2 separate regions of the Homo sapiens genome follow, and region 2 is linked to region 1. The links come from fine-mapping of genetic effects on gene expression. A gene starts in region 1. The other region holds a variant in brackets. All regions are shown on one strand. Distances are from middle to middle.

What was found.
Region 2: its variant is fine-mapped to the expression of TGFBRAP1 in whole blood (TOPMed, PIP above 0.99).

The regions. Positions count from the first base shown.
Region 1 is chr2:105,326,800-105,332,168 of GRCh38, reverse strand. TGFBRAP1 (transforming growth factor beta receptor associated protein 1) reads left to right here and starts at 2,434. Exons shown (of 12, transcript NM_004257.6): 1 at 2,434-2,544. It overlaps C2orf49-DT (C2orf49 divergent transcript), which reads left to right. Exons shown (of 2, transcript NR_187479.1): 2 at 1-640. RefSeq lists a silencer at 2,120-2,549.
Region 2 is chr2:105,278,188-105,283,556 of GRCh38, reverse strand. It overlaps TGFBRAP1 (transforming growth factor beta receptor associated protein 1), which reads left to right. Exons shown (of 12, transcript NM_004257.6): 6 at 2,834-3,175. Among named protein-coding and RNA genes, the nearest start is that of GPR45, 39 kb to the right of the region's middle. The variant G/A (reference allele first, on the strand shown) is at 2,753.

The DNA of each region.
Region 1 (5,369 bases):
TACCACTGCACTCCAGCCTGGGCAAAAGAGACTGTCTAAAAAAAAAAAAAAAAAGTAATCTAGTTAATATTTCAATATTGAGCATCAAGAATTTTTAAAAATTGGTTGAGTGTTTTCTACATGCAGAAAGATACAGCAGAGAGCATAGACACAATCCTTGCCCTCCCAAGCGTATACCCAGCGAGAAAGTGAGAAGCACAGAGTATGTGTAAGCATAAAAATACTAAGTTTTGAGAGTAGACAGCAACTATGAAAATATTCAGTTATATCGATGCAACTCAGTCTTCATTAATTGTTCTCATCGGAGCACATCTTTTTCACATTCTGTAAAGTAACGCTCGGTATGGGCCCAAGGAATATTTAATAAATATTTAAAAATGAAGTTAATAATTGTTTTGAAAGCCATATGGTTGATATTTCTTCTTAAATGTAACCAATAGAAACAACATAAGGAATTTGGCCTGTGCATATATTTGCACATTTATGGTACAGGCATTTACATGGAGGTGCCTGTCATTTGTGACACAGACTTCTCATCAAGTTTCAGAAGGAACAGATGTTTCTAGATGGAATAATATGGAGCTTGCCATTGTAAGAATCCTGTAATAAATCCTTTCATAAAATAAATATATCTGAATTATCTCTTGTTATACATTTTCACTCCTGGATCATCTAAAGTAGAACACAAAGATTGTTCATAAACTATTCATTCAAAACAACTTTATATAAAAAGAATTACTGTTGCTGAATTCTGGATTCTTATTGTTGCTCTTTCTTACTAGCATGGGGTTTGGGACAAGTCACCTTTTTAAATTTTTTTATTTATATTTTCCTAAGTGAATTAACACAGGAAGTCATTCACCTTTCTTTGCCTCAAAGAATTAAATTTATTCTTTGACGCTATTAAGTAAATTAATAGCGTCTACTTCATTGCTCAGTCACTAGCAGTTTCTGAAGTCACTGTCTGGCAGTCAGTAGATATCACCTCTGTAACTAGTCTTGTGCAGCTCTCTGTGATGTGATCTGGTAGAGGACTAAGATACAAAAGCACAAGGGTGAATTCTAGGACCACCTGAGCCAGTGATTAGTTGATGACAAGTCACATAGTCTCTGTGAGCCTGGGTAAAATGAAGAGACTGGATTTGCTCTTGTACCTTCCCAATCCCTGGCTCCACTAGCTGTTGGCCACCTTAGACTTGAAGGTCCATTCACTGCTGCTTGCCCTTGAAGCTCAATTGCTGGTCAGAGCTTTACACTCCTGGGAAGCCAGTCCCCTACCTGGAGGCTGAGCCGGTGACACTGGTTCCACTGGGTCACAGCTGAAGCACCACTGGGGATGGGGCATTTATGTGGCCATGAGTCACACTAGGGTAGGGGTAGAGGGCAAGTCACAGGAAGATTGTTGGGTTTTTTTTTTTTTTTTTTTTTTTTGGCCAGTTTCTTTTCTTTCTTTTTTTATCCCTTTGAAACAGAAGACCATGGCGTACAATCTGGTATCTGCCTTCAGGGTTGGGATAATATCTTTGTTTTACAATACTCAGAGTGGCTGGAAGAAAGCTGAGGCCACAGGTCACTAGCAGGTTCTAAAGTCTGAAAATCCCTGGGAAAATTTGACTTTTTATATGCTAATAATTGAGTACTGACAACTCTGGAGGGAGCTTTCCAATTCTTCCGTCATGAAAGTGGACTTTGTATACTAAAGAGGGGTTCATGGATTCATGGTAACCTACAATTCTTCCTTGCGGCCTGAACCAAAGGAATAGCAGCTACAGTTGGGTTTTCCTAAAAGGAGTAAGATAGTCCCAGGCCTCCCTTCTCAAATAAGTGTATCAAGCAGGTGGACTCTGCCAGTCGGGGGTCCCGGTCAATCCCTAGGGCCCTGGGGCGCCATGGGCCTCGTGGGAGGGCTGCGCATCCCAACCATGCCTTCGTCTCCTGGTGGGGCACCGGCGGTACGTCCGATCCTCCAGCCCGCGTGGTCAGGCGGCCGCGGGCCCAAGCATTTCCCAGGGCCCAAGCATTTCATTCATTTATTCATTCACGCAGCAGGTATTTCCCGGGCGCCCTCCTCCTGTGTAGGTGACAGAAACTGGGTGGCGAGCGAGCCAGGCAAAGCCCGGCTTCCCTGAAGCTCCCCGCAGCGGCGGGGGCGGAGAAGAGACCTCAGCCCCGCGGGCTCGCACAGCTGGCGCGGACCACGCTCTCGCCCGGGGCCGGCGGCCTCAGCGCCCCCCGAATGAACACCTTCCGCCCGCTGGCCGCCCCGCGAGGCGGGCCGTGTCGTGGCCCCGGTGCACGGAGGGGGACGCCGAGGCCCGGAGCAGGGCCCGTCTCGGCCTGTGCTCGGAGCCAGGCGGCAGGGCCCGCGGGCCGGCGGGCGGCGCGGAGACGGCTGCGCTCCCGCCCTCCGCCAGCGCCTGGCGGCCGCCCCACGTGACGGGAAGCGGCGGCTGCGGGGTCGGGCCAGCCCAGGAGCCGCGGGCCGGAGCGGGGCGGCGGGGCCCCAGGCCGCGGGGCGGCGCGGGACGGCGGGCGCCGGCGCCGGTGAGTGAGGAGGGCGGCGGGGCGCGGGGTGCGGGGCTCAGGGCGCGGGGCGCGTGGGGCAGGAGGGCGGGGAGCAGGAGTGGGGGGTAGGCGGCGGGGCGGGGTGGAGGGCGAGCCCGTGCGTGTGCGCTGGGGCAGGTGTAGTGGGGGCTGGAACGCGGGGTGGGGGGAGCAAGTGGCTATACACTTGGGGGCAGGTGTGCGGGTGTGCGACTTGGTAGCTGTCCCTTGTGGGGGCCGGCTAGCCTGCTGGGGTGAGCAAATAAGTGTTCACGTGTGTGTGGGATGAAGTGTGCACGGGTGTGGGGTCAAGTGTGTATGTTGTGTGTGAGGAGTGCGTGTGTGTTTAGGGCAAGGGAAGACCTGAGAGACCTCGTCCTTGATTTGGGTTTTCCGGGGAGAAGGGCCAGGAAGGACTTGCACCTCCATCCCTGGTATGGAATGGTTTTGGCGCTGTGATTGAGGTTTCTGGGAGCTCTTTGGATTTGAGAGCTCAAATTCGGGTCACACTCAGGCCTGAATTGTCCTGATCTGGAGAGTAGGCAGGGGTGTGTTGGGGAGTAGGGAAAAGTGCTGTGCTGGGCTTCCTGGCCCCTGTTTTTAGCACCAGGTCAAGGGCTGGAAGCTGTCATCCCTGTGGAATTGTTTTCTTTCCATTGCCTTCTGGAGGTGCAGGTGCAAGTTAGTCCGCCTGCCTCCCTGTGTTAAGTGTTGATATCCTTAAACACGGAAGCTGTCCGGTTGTCTGCACCTGCCGTGGCTTCTACCCAAGGACTGTTGAGTGACCCTCAGGAAGCCTCCTACCTGGCTGCTAAAAATGGGGGCTCACAGATCACACAGCAGGCCTTACTGCACGTGGACTGCACGCGCAGCTGTGGTCAAAACATGTCTGAGCAGAGTTTAATCACTGATGAAGTGCTCATGGGCAAGCACCTTGTCTATCAGGAAGGAAGGCAGCTGCGGGTGTGATTGTGGTGGCAAGTTAAGGCACTGAGAAGGTGTGCAGGGAAGATCCTACTGCGTTGTGTGTGTTGGCTTGGTTGGAGTCAGGATGAACGAATGTAGAGGGACTGTGTGGTGGCTGCTACTCTCTCATGGTGGACATGCTTCTCTCTGTTGGTCAGCCGGAAGCTGGCAGACAACTGAGAGCTCGCAGTTCCATGGTCAGTCAGAAGGAACATTTGGTCAGCTGCTTCCTTTTCTTTTTCCTTCCATTTCTGCCAGCCGAGCAGCCTCAACAGTCATTGCAGCTGCTTCTGTGATGTGTAGCAAAACGCTGCCTGGAGTACTAGAAAGTCTACTGGCTGGAATCTGCTGGAACCTGTCCATAACTAGCCTGCCCCAGGTCATCTATGAAATGGGAGTGATGCTCTGTGGTGGTAATGAATGTGGAGTGTGGGTTCAAATCCTGCCTCTGCCATTTCCTGTGACCTTTGGGCAATTTGCTGGACATTCTGAGTCTCAAATTCCTCCATCAAAATAGGGATAATATTAGAAAAGGCACATGAATTCTAATAAGAAATTGTGCCTGGAAAGGATCCGGCACAGGGTCTGGCATTTAGTAGGTGCTCAATAAATTATTGCTGACAAATATAAATGAGGATGTAGAGCCAGGTCTCCCTCAGCTCTGAAAATATGTAGTTTTATGTTTTGAGTAATTGTTAACCTAACAAATGATTTACTCTGGAGTTAGACTTGTGGGTTCTGAATTCCAATTTGCTATGTGCATCAAGGTTTGCATTACACAATTGAATTGGGTGAGAGGTGAGGTGCCACTGTTAGCCTTCATTCACTCTGCCTTTTCTTCTACACTCATGATTGTGCATGGCAGTCCTCTTGTCATAGCATTGGAGGCAGAGCGTTTTCACCACTGCAGGAATCCCAGGACCAATCTAACCTCAGCTTAAACCCTCCAGAGACAGGGATTTGTAAAGGGCCCATTCTTCATTTAGGCAGCTCCAGTTGAGGAGTTTTAAAAGCATAGAGCTCACTATTTTAAAAATGCTATATTTTCTTTTTGTTGTTGTCTTCTGGGTGGTTTTTTTGCTGTTGTTTTTGAGACAGGGTCTTGCTCTGTCACCCAGGCTGGAGTGCAGTGGTGTGACCATGGCTCACTGCAGTCTTGATCTCCCAGACTCAAGGGATCCTCCCACCTCAGCCTCTCAAGTAGCTGGGACCACAGGCTCGCACTACCACACCCAGATAATTTAAAAAATTTTTTTTGTAGAGATAGGGGTCTCCCTGTGTTGCCCAGGCTGTTCTCAAACTCCTGGCCTCAAGCAATCCTCCTGTCTTGGCCTCCCAAAGTGCTGGGATTACAGACCTGAGCCGCTGCGCCCAGCCAAAAAACTTGCTGTATTTTCTGGGTCTGATATGCAGCTAACATTTCTGTTAGGAAAAAAAAAATGAAGTTATTTGGCTTATTCCTTCATGCTAATATTACAAATTTGTGATCTTTTAAGAAAACTTGAAGAAATTTTACTTAATGGGTTAAGTGTCTTCATCTTGGTCTGAATCCAGCCCTCATTAGAAATACATTAAAGTAGTCATTTGTGGCAGCCAGGTGTTTGGATACTGCCGAATAATTTGGCTCAGACTTTACAACTCATCTCTGTAGCAAACCTGACTCGTTTTTCTTTATTTAAAAAAATAAATACCTACTAAATGAATGTAGAGTAACAACTTAATTTGGTGCTACCCCAAATGACTTTAAGTGCCTCATGAAAAGTGAATTATGAAATCTTGCAGATGATTTGAAATCAAGATCTTTTCTTGATAGTCAAGTAACTGCTGTTGAAAAAGTTAAAGATTTAAGGAAAAAATCA
Region 2 (5,369 bases), 49 kb after region 1:
GCACTGCCTTTAGAGTAAGTTCTCAAAATGTCTCTCCAGAATAGATTGTGCACAGTTTACAGCTATCTAAGAAATAACATGTATAGGAAGCCCCTGAATAGATATTTTCATCCAAGTAGTGACTTGAGCAGAATGCCTCCCTTGCCTGTTCTGTAGGAGGTCTGCCCATGACCAGCCACGTCCTTACATCCACGGTGGCTCTAATCTTTCACTCTATGCTGGATATTTGAAGAATGGCATTACTGAAAATGATTACAGTTACACAATCGGTTGTAGAGAATGGATTTCTAAGTAAAGGAGGAATCATTCCTTGAATAATGATGCCCCATATAACTTTTTCTTGTACAACTCTTACATGCTGTTCTCTGTTCTTGGAAAGACCCGTGGCTTCAGGGTTTAAGTCAGTTTTTTGCCCCTTTGGACCTAGGCTCTTTTCTGCCGTATCTTGTGTTAGCCCTACAGTGTTGAAGACCTCCTCACCGGGGTCATGGGTGTATCCCAAGGTGTCTTCTTTCTCTTATGGGTTAATCTGAAACATTAGGTGATTGTCCACAGATGGATTCCTAGAAGAGTCCTCGGATTTTGTAAGAGAATAGATGTGGGGCCTGTTATTAGGATGACATTCCTGTACTTCCGCACCTCACTCTCTTAATGGCTTAACTTTAAATTGCTGCTCGTCTTTGGTCCAAAGTGTGGCTGAGAGAACGGATTTTTTTTTTTTTTTTCGTTTTGAAGCAGCATCTCATTCTGTCTCCCAGGCTGGAGTGCAGTGGTGCAATCATAGCTCACCGCAGCCTCGACCTTCTGGGCTCAATGATCTTCCTGCCTCAGACCCCTGAGTAGCTAGGACTTCAGGTGTATGCCACCACGGGACCTGGCTAATCTTTTATTTTTTGTAGAGATGGGATCTTATTGTGTTGCCCAGGCTGGTCTCAAACTCGTGGCCTCAAGTCATCCTCTTGCCCCAGCCTCCCAAAGTGGTGAGATCACAGCCATGAGCCACTAGGCCCAGCCTGAGAATTGATATTTGAAGAAGATACTTCTAAGACAAAGATGATTCCACTTCCTTTTCTGTGCTCACAGCAAATGTTGCTAATAAATTGTGATTTTCTTTTCCTCGTTGAACTGGACCCGTCCTCTGACTCCTCAGTGCCGTGCCGGAGGCCACAGTTACCAGCTAGTTATGGTTGAAACTTAAGAGAAAATTGATCATACATAACCTGGGGATGTGGGCTCTGTGTCTCTTCCTTTAGACCACCTGCACCCTGTCGTTGTATCAGCTAGGTTCAGCTCTTCTTTCATTCAGCAAACGTGGCCTGAGCATCTGAGCAATGGATGGAAGGGTAACCCAGTGCCTGCTTCTCTGGCATGCCCATTCTAGCTTGGAAACTGGATGTGTGCCTTTCCTGCAGCACAGGTGCTGCTCTGCTGTGGGAGCGTTGCATGGGCTCACATCAGCCAGTGGAGGAATCTTCCCTGGATTCGTCCTGGATCTTAAACAATGAGCAGAAATTTCTCAAATCAAGAATTGTACTTTAGGTCAGGGATTCTCAGCTGTGGCACTGTAGACGTTTTGAGCCAGATAATTCTTTGGGCAGGGGGTTACTGTCTTGTGCATTACAGGGTGTTTAATGGCAGCAGCCCTGGCCTCTACCTACTAGATGCCATAGCACACCCCCGCCCCAGTCATGATAAAATTGTCTCCAGGCATTGCCACATGTTCCCCAGGGAACAAAATTGCTTTTCACCAAGAACCACTGCTTTAGGCCAGGAAACAACCACAGCAAAGGCTGAGAGTCATGAAATGTACAAACTGGCAACATAAGTGGGTCTAGTAGAAGTGTTGGGGTGTGGGAGGGATGCTTGAGGCTGAAGGTGTAGGGTAGCTTGAGATCAGTTTGGGAAGGGCCTTGAATGCCATACTAAGAGATTTGAAATTTATCCTGTGGGTTATACAAATCACTGGAGGTCAGGAGAGGCTGAGTGAAGTGGAAGGAAGGGCAGCCAGAGGTGGAAGCCAGTAGAGGAGGACAGCTGATCAGAGCTTGGATGAAGGAGGATGCTCTGAACATCGCAGGCAGCATGGATCCTGGGTCCTTCCTCGCCATTCCATGTGTCTGGGGTGGGGTGGCCCCTGCTTCTGTTCCCTCAGGAGGTTTTCCACAGCTGGGTCTGACACTGGGCCAGGTTTGAGATCCACAGCTCCTGCTCTGATTGTAGCCAGGACAAGGAGGTTCCGGAGAGGAGATGGGAAAGGAACTGTTTGTTGCATTACAATGTTAGGCTCTGAAATTCTACGAGAGTCCCCACAGAAATGGCCACATGAATATTTCTGTGTCTTCTGTTGTGAGATGTTGGTGAGGAAGTTGTAAGTTACTGTTTTTATAAAGTCCCTTCTTCAAGGACCATTCAACAAATCTGTTTGTAATTTAGTGCCAGGAAAATGCTGGTTTCAGCAGAGCTGTGATGGTGCCTTTGCGCAGACTCTGATGGCGTGTTATCCTGGGTGTTGCTTTTCTGCCTTGGTTTCCAGGCTCAGCTGGGTATTCTCTTCATCATAGGCATTTTGGTGTTCCACTCTCACACCAGTTCTGTATGTGTCTTTCACCTTCGTCCCTTCTGTTCTTTTTTGGAGCCAGGTGGCAGCACCCACTTGGATGGTGCTTTGCTGCACTTCAGATTAGAACGGTTGCTCTGACATGATTACCCTGTCCCCAGCTCCCCAGCCCCCTGTGAACGTGTGCCACCGTGC[G/A]CTCCCCTCCAGTGCTGTTTTGTGTGCCTATGTGTACTCTTCTCTCTTTTTGCTTCATTTAGTTTGACACTGTAATTGCAGAAGCGGCCAGCTTGATGTCCGGGAGCTGATCTCTCTCTACCCCTTCCTGTTGCCCACCTCCTCCTCCTTCACCCGGTCCCACCCTCCTCTTCATGAGTACGCAGACCTGAACCAGCTGACCCAGGGGGACCAGGAGAAGATGGCCAAGTGCAAACGCTTCCTCATGAGCTACCTGAACGAGGTCCGCAGCACAGAGGTAGCAAATGGCTACAAGGAGGACATCGACACAGCCTTGCTCAAACTGTATGCAGAGGCTGACCACGACAGCCTGCTGGACCTCCTGGTCACTGAGAACTTCTGTCTTCTGACGGACAGTGCTGCCTGGCTAGAGAAGCACAAAAAGTGAGTGTTCCCTTCCTGATATGATCAGGGCTTCCCGCCCTGCACCCTTACTGAGGCTCTTTGCTGGGGAGATCCTCGTGAAGTGACTTAGCCAGTGTGATGTTTATGTTCCCAAGTACCTATAGGTGACTGCCACGAAATCATAGTGACAGCAGATGCATGTGCTCCTCAGATGCCCTCTCTGTCTCCACCATCTGCAGACCCCTTGAAGGGGTCTTGGAGGGCATTTGTTCTCATTCCCATTCTTTAATAATTTGGAGTATAGTTTGGAACTAGTAATATGCTTTGTGAGTAAATGAAGTTAATTTTCTTTCTTTTTTTTTTTTTTAATGACTATTTTTTTTGAGACGGAGTCTCGCTCTGTCACCCAGGCTGGAGTACAGTGGTGTGATCTCAGCTCACTGCAACCTCCACCTCCTGGGTTCAAGCAATTCTCCTGCCTCAGCCTCCCAAGTAACTGGGACTACAGGTGCACGCCACCACACCCAGGTAATTTTTGTATTTTTAGTAGAGACGGGGTTTTGCCATGTTGGCCAGGCTGGTCTAGAACTCCTGACCTCAGGTGGTCTGCTCGCCTCGGCCTCCCAAAGTGCTGGGATTACAGGGGTGAGCCACTGCGCCCAGCCATGAAGTTATTTTTCAATTTCCTTTGTAGTCAGCCTCGTATTCACTTGTGGGAGATGCCACATGTTTATTGGTAAAATTTACAGTGCATTTTAGTTACTGACAACTGAATTGAATAGATAGCTAGATAAACAGATTCAAAGGGAGGCTTCTTGATTTTGTTGATACATGGTATGGTTTTAAACTCTGCCTTCCTTGGCTGGACATGGGGGTTCATGCCTGTAATCCCAGCATTTTGGGAAGCTGAGGTGGGCATATTGCTTGAGCCCAGGAGTTTGAGGCCAGCTTGGGCAACACAGTAAGATCTTGTCTTTACTAAAAATTAAGAAGAAATTAGCTGGGTGTGGTGGTTCACGCCTGTGGTCCCAGCTACTCAGAAGGCTGAAGCAGGAAGATTGCTTGAGCCCAGGAGTTTGAAGCTTCAGTGAGCAGTGATTGCACCATTGCATTCCAGCCTGGAGACAGAGCTAGACCCTGTCTCAAAAAAACAAAAAACTCTGCCTTCCTTATGTGCATGAGTTAGTAGATGGCCTTATGTATCATGGACTGTTAATGCATAGTGCCTGGCTTAGTTGGGGCCAGCAGCTTCTCCATTCTGGGCAGCTAACACATAGCCCAACCATTCTAGGCCTCACTTTTCTTATCTTTAAAAATGAGAGGGGTTGGGTGATCCCTCAGCTCCATTTACAGGATAAGATTTTTTCGGTCTATGATTTTCGTTAAGGATTTGAAATGACAAAAGCGTGGATGAACTCCCACAGAGACCCTGGGGTCACTGTGCTAGTATCTGAGATGTCAGAGCCTTCCACGTGGGTATTGGCCTTTTCAGCAGTTTCCATCAGCCACTCGGATATGCTATGGAATCAGTGTTAGTTTTTTCAGGAGCCAGAAAACACACTGCCACCTTATGGTAGTGACAAGGGATGGTGGGATCCGTAGAGTCAGCATGACTTTCCAAAAGGTTGAGGAAAAGAGAAGGATTCAAGCAGATGCCTCAATATCTTGAGAGTGTGCCCTTGGAGGGAAGATGCTTGACCCCTCACTGGTCAACTTACTCCAGTTTCCTGCTGGGAAGGAGGACCAGGAGTGTGGCACCCTTGCAGACTTTGGGAGGGTGCTGAGGGCTCACTGCCCAGGCAATGCCAATGCTATTGCCGATCTTTTCCATTTATAGGTGAGGAGTTAGAGGCTGGGCAAGTTAACCTACTTGCTCAAGGTCACGCGGGTTATAAATAATGAAGCTGGACTTGAAACCCAGGTTCTTGAACTCTGGGCACTCTCCCCCAGGACGCTCCCTGACTCTGTGGTCTGCGAGTCCCGGACACTAGCACTTCCTGCTGTTCCTCATGTTCAGAGCCCCTGCCCTCCTTCTCAGTCTCTGCTTAGGCAAAGTAGCTTCTGCATATTCTTCTAGTACCTCATGTGGGTTAATAGTAGTAGACCAAAGACATATGAAATTATATTAATATTTGAAGCAAATTGTAAAGCAACTCCAGCTGTGATTTTTCCATAGTTTACTTTTTCAGCTCATCTTAGATTGGAATCAGATTCTTTTTGGAAGTTGATAGAG